Linked DNA regions of Homo sapiens: region 1 is linked to region 2. The links come from fine-mapping of genetic effects on gene expression. A gene starts in region 2. The other region holds a variant in brackets. All regions are shown on one strand. Distances are between the middles of the regions. Region 1 overlaps R3HDM2 (R3H domain containing 2). Region 2 holds the start of R3HDM2 (R3H domain containing 2).

Region 1 (2,911 bases), 160 kb before region 2:
GCTCCTCTTAGGCCTCCCCTAACTGGGGAAGGGCAGTGATACGGGCAGGGATAGCAGTGCTATTTTTTTAGTTACTCCACAGCTATCCTCAGCCATAGTTCTCTTCTTGAAGGGTGTAAAACTACAAAGCCAGGGAAGCTCTGAAAAACCATGAGGAAATTTATTTAAACAAAACTTAGGAATATACCTAACCAAGGAGTTGAAAGACCTCTACATGGAAAACTACAAAACACTGCTGAAAGAAATCATAGATGATACAAACAGATGGAAACACATCTCATGCTCATGGATGGGTAGAATCAATATTGTAAAAATGACCATACTGCCAAAAGCAATCTACAAATTCAATGCAATCCCCATCAAAATACCACCATCATTCTTCGCAGAATTACAAAAAAAAAATTCTAAAATTCATATGGAACAAAAAAAGAGCCCCCATAGCCAAAGCAAGACTAAGCAAAAAGAACAAATCTGGAGGCAACATACTACCTGATTTCAAAGTATACTATAAGGTTATAGTGACCAACACAGCATGGTACTGGTATAAAAATAGGCACATAGACCAATGGAACAGAATACAGAACCCAGAAATAAACCCAAATACTTACAGCCAACTGATCTTTGACAAAGCAAACAAAAACATAAAGTGGGGAAAGGACACCCTTTTCAACAAATGGTGCTGGGATAATTGGCTAGCCACATGTAGGAGAATGAAACTGGATCTTCATCTCTCACCTTATACAAAAATCAACTCAAGATGGATTAAGGACTTAAATCTAAGACCTGAAATTAAAAATTCTAGAAGATAATATATTGGAAAAACCCTTCTAGATGTTGGCTTAGGCAACGATTTCATGACCAAGAACCCAAAACCAAATGCAATAAAAACAAAGATAAATAGTTGGGACTTAATTAAACTAAAAAACGTTTGCATGGAAAAAAAAAAAAAAAAACAGCAGAGGAAACAGACAAACCACAAAGTGGGAGAAAATCTTCACAATCTGTACATCTGACAAAAGACTAATATCCAGAATCTACGACGAACTCAAATAAATCAGTAAGAAAAAAACAATCCCATCAAAAAGTGGGCTAAGGACATGAATAGACAATTCTCAAAAGAAGATATACAAATGGCCAACAAATATATGAAAAAATGCTCAACATCACTAATGATCAGGGAAATCCATATCAAAACCACAATGTGATACCACCTTACTCCTGCAAGAATGGTCATAATCAAAAAATCAAAAAACAGCAGATGTTGGCATGGATGCAGTGTCAGGGAACACTTCTACACTGCTGGTGGGAATGTAAAGTAGTACAGCCACTATGGAAAACAATGTGGAGATTCCTTAAAGAACTAAAAGTAGGGCCGGGCGCAGTGGCTCATGCCTGTAATCCCAGCACTTTGGGAGGCCAAGGCGGGCGGATCATGAGGTCAGAAGATCGAGACCATCCTGGCTAACATGGTGAAACCCCGTCTCTACTAAAAATACAAAAAATTAGCTGGGCGTGGTGGCGGTTGCCTGTAGTCCTAGCTACTCGGGAGGCTGAGGCACGAGAATGGCATGAACCCGGAGCTTGCAGTGAGTCAAGATCGTGCCACTGCACTCCAGCCTGGGC[G/A]ACAGAGTGAGACTCCATCTAAAAAAAAAAAAAAAAAAAGAACTAAAAGTAGAACTACCATTTGATTCAGGAATCCCACAACTGGGTATCTACCCAGAGGAAAAAAAGTCATTATACAAAAAAGATACTTGCATGTGCATGTTTATAGCAGCACGATTCACAATTGCAAAATCATGGAACCAACCCAAATGCCCATCAATCAATGAGTGGGTAAAGAAACTGTGGTATATACACACAATGGAATACTATGCAGCCATAAAAAGGAATGAATTAACAGCATTTGCAGTGACCTGGATGAGATTGGAGACTATTATTCTAAGTGAAGTAACTCAGGAATGGAAAACCAAACATCGCATGTTCTCACTGATATGTGGGAGCTAAGCTATGAGGACGCAAAGGCATAAGAATGATAAAATGGGCCGGGCACAGCGGCTCACGCCTGTAATCCCAGCACTTTGGGAGGCCAAGGTGGGCGGATCATGAGGTCAGGAGTTTGAGACCAGCCTGACCTACATGGTGAAACCCCCATTTCTACTAAAAATACAAAAATTAGCTGGGCGTGGTGGTGCGTGCCTGTAATCCCAGCTACTCAGGAGGCTGAGGCAGGAGAACCGCTTGAACCCAGGAGGTGGAAGTTGCAGTGAGCCGAGAGTGCATCACTGCACTCCAACCTGGGTGACAGAGCGAGACTCCATCTCAAAAGAAAAAAAAAAAGAATGATAAAATGGACTTTGGAGACTTGAGGGGAAGAGTGGGAAGGGGGCAAGGGATAAAAGACTACAAATATGGTGCAGTGTATACTGCTCGGGAGATGGGTGCACCACAATCTCACAAATCACCTCTAAAGAGCTCACTCATGTAACCAAGTACTGCCTGTACTCCAATAACTTATGGAAAAATAAATAATGAACAAAAAAAAAAAAAAAAAAGACTGCCCTGAGGGATGTGGCTGCCACCTACTGGCAAATTCTGGGCTTGTTCACTGGCTCTTGATGACAAAAGGGGGCCCCGAGAACTCCTTTTCAAGAAGTCTACTTCATTTTAAGTAAATTGGGCAAAAGGGAGATCCTGGCCCTTTAATCCTCAGCCTCACCCCTGGTTTCACGAGCTTCACCGACACACAATTTGAAGGCCTGCTTGGACAGAGGAGCCCTGCCAGGAAGGGAAAGATCATAGTTTAGTCAGTACTGTTCCCAGACCTGGGGCAAGTGCCTTGTGTGACAGAGTTAAAGGTAACAACCCTTCCTCAAAGATTTTTTTTTTTTTTTTAGACAGAGTCTTGCTGTGT
Region 2 (2,911 bases):
CCGAAAAGGAACCACTACACTCCATTCTGGGTGACAGACTGAGACCCTGTCTCAAAAAACAAAATACAACCTTTTGTCTTGATACCCCAGCAACAAAAAGGGGGGCGGGGGTGGGGGGGGAATATTGGTGGAACAACAACAAAAAAAAGCATTAGGAAGAAGAGCCACAAATAATTCAACTGCAAATCTATCTAAAAATACAAGAAAATGCTAGGAATTTGTGATATTCCTGAAGTGAAACCTGTCACTTTCCTCCTTCCTTGAGTCTCCACGTGGCTTACGCATATCAGACAGGACTCAGGCTTCTCAATCTTAGTTATCTATTTGAACAACATTATGTACAAGGATATTCATCCAACTGGGATCTGAATTCAAACTTTTCCACTTTTCTTTCTTCCGTTTTAACGCAGTTCTGGGATTGTTATTCGGTCATTTCTCATCATTATCCAATGACAATTCACTCTAAGTCAGTATTCCTGGTAGTTCCGAGACTTAATGGCCACAAATGTTGAAAAATGTTAGCTCTACGGGAAAACGAATCGAAGCGTTTTCAGGGGCTCGAGTAGTTATGAGCTTAGTGTAGGCCCAAGTTTTAAGCTATAGAAACATCTCCCTGTATGTGCCAACTCAAATCCCCGTCCCTGTAAGAAACCTGGACACCAGCATGATTTTAAACACTTCTACACCTCTCCGTCCTATTTTTCCATGCTCCACGCTCGAAGGAAAACCGCCACCCAAGAAACACACGGAGCTAGCCACCCCGAAGCACTGGAAGGGCGCAATAGTTTTTAGGTCACCCCGCAAAGGCCACAGGTGGCGCCACCCCCCTGCCCCCGCACCGCCGCCCTCCGCCCCGCGCCCCCAGCTTCTCTCCAGCAGCGCACACTTGGAGCAGTCCTTCCCGCGGCCATCCGACCCTGACCCATCGTCCCCGGGACCGGCTGCCGGGCGCGAGGAACCCAGGCCGCGGGGCCTCCTCGCGCCCGCCCGTGCGGCCGCCACGCCCCCTCCCCACAGGCCGTCCGGGCCGCCCGCCCCCTCGGCCGGGAGGTGGCCTCACCTCGCACGGGCCTTGGCGGGGAGGGCGCCCACGTCTCCGCCCGCCGCCCGGGCCCACGGCCGCTCGGCTGCGGCTCGGCCCCGACGGCCGGCGGCGGCGCGCTTCTGGGGGCGGGCTTTTCTCGGCCGGGGCTTCCCCGGGGCCGAGGGCTGGGAAGCAGGGGGGACTGGGACGGGGGAGGGGAAAGGGGCTTGGGAAGGAGGGGGGAGAGGGGAAGAAAAGGGGGGAACCAAACCCGGAAAGGGAGAAAAGGGGGGAGGGGAAAATCAGAAGGGGAAGAAAAGCCCAGAGTCCGCCCCCCGCTGCGGCTGCGCGCTACGTCACTACGTCCGGCGTTGTCGTCACCTCGTCCTGCGTTCCGGCCGTCCCTGCTTCCTGGCTTCCCGCGTGCCCCTCAGCAGCCCTGCGGGGCCTACCGCCTGCCGCACGCACTCCCGCCGGCGCGCGCGCACTCGCACTCGCTCGCTCGCCCTCTCCTCCTTCCGCGTTACCTGTGTCAGGACACCAATCCGGAGTCACTGGGAGCCTCGGTCCTCCTTAAACCCTTCAAGTCTGTCAGATAGAATACCCTGGATTTCAATATAATACTAATAGTGATCATTCTAAAGTAATTTCCATTTACAGAGCACTTTCACTTAGGGCAGTAACTCCTGTACCAAAAGAACGTACACTCGGTATTTGTTGCATACGTGGATAACTATAGTTGAGCAGGTAAATGTCCATTTTACGTAAAGATGAAAAAAACCGACCTAGGAGGAACTCAGTCTGTCCTATTAAGATCACATTCTTACCATCATCCCCTCTCTAAGATACAGTTCTCAAAAATCGTCTTAAATGTCCAGCCTCCCCCGTTTTGTCCATTCTAGGCAGAATCAATTTAGTTATTGATTATGTGTGTGTGGATAATTTACTGACCAAACTCCCTCAAAGAAGCAATGTAGTCTTTTGTAGAATTCGACCATTAAATATTTACCTTGTGACAGAAACTGCGGTAGGCAAAAAAAGTCAAATAATTATAGTACAATTTAAGTGCTATAATAGAAAGGTTTAAATGTGCTATGGAAACACAAGGAACAGCAATTCGTTCTTAGCGGTAAAAGAGATTGAGTAAGTTACAGAGAAACTACAGGTGAAACTCCAGCTAATCTTGAGACTATAAATAGTTCACTAGAGAGGTAAGAATGGAGATTCCAGCAAAGTCATAGAGGCATGAAGTTCATCTTTCCTTCAAGGATGAGCAAGTTCCAGGTTGGTTGGCGTTTTTTGTTTGTTTGTTTGTTTGTTTTATTTATTTTGAGATGGGGTCTCGCTTTGTCACCCAGGCAACTAGATTGCAGTGGTGCAATGTCGGTTCACTACAACCTTCACCTCTCAGGTTCAAGTGATTCTCCTGCCTCAGCGTCCGGAGTAGCTGGGACTACAGGCACGCACCATCACACCCGGCTATTTTTTGTATTTTTAGTAGAGACGGGGTTTTGCCATGTTGGCCAGGCTAATCTCGAACTCCTGGCCTCAGGTGATCCACCCGCCTCGGCCTTCCAAAGTTCTGGGATTACAGGTGTGAGCCACCTTGCCCAGCCCTCTCTCCTGGTCATCACTGCCTCCTGCCCCCAAATTCTCTCAACCCTCTAGAGAACAACAACGGGGGAAGAAAAATACAACTGAACTGAACTGATCTAACCTGCCACTTTTCACCACGATTTAAACTTTTTGTCTTGGCCGGGCGCAGTGGCTCACACCTAGCACTTTGGGAGGCCAAGGCAGGTGGATCATTTGAGCTCAGGAGTTCCAGACCAGGCAGTGATGACCAGTAGGAAATAATAGCTAATATTTGTATTATGTGTATGTAAG

Evidence for each region.
Region 1: its variant is fine-mapped to the expression of R3HDM2 in whole blood (TOPMed, PIP above 0.99).

The regions. Positions count from the first base shown.
Region 1 is chr12:57,274,566-57,277,476 of GRCh38, forward strand. All of the region lies in intron 14 of R3HDM2 (R3H domain containing 2), which reads right to left. Among named protein-coding and RNA genes, the nearest start is that of STAC3, 25 kb to the left of the region's middle. The variant G/A (reference allele first, on the strand shown) is at 1,624.
Region 2 is chr12:57,429,660-57,432,570 of GRCh38, forward strand. It overlaps R3HDM2 (R3H domain containing 2), which reads right to left and starts at 1,384. Exons shown (of 24, transcript NM_001394031.1): 1 at 1,061-1,384. It overlaps R3HDM2-DT (R3HDM2 divergent transcript), which reads left to right and starts at 1,457. Exons shown (of 2, transcript NR_185976.1): 1 at 1,457-1,771. RefSeq lists an enhancer at 526-635 and a silencer at 816-1,285.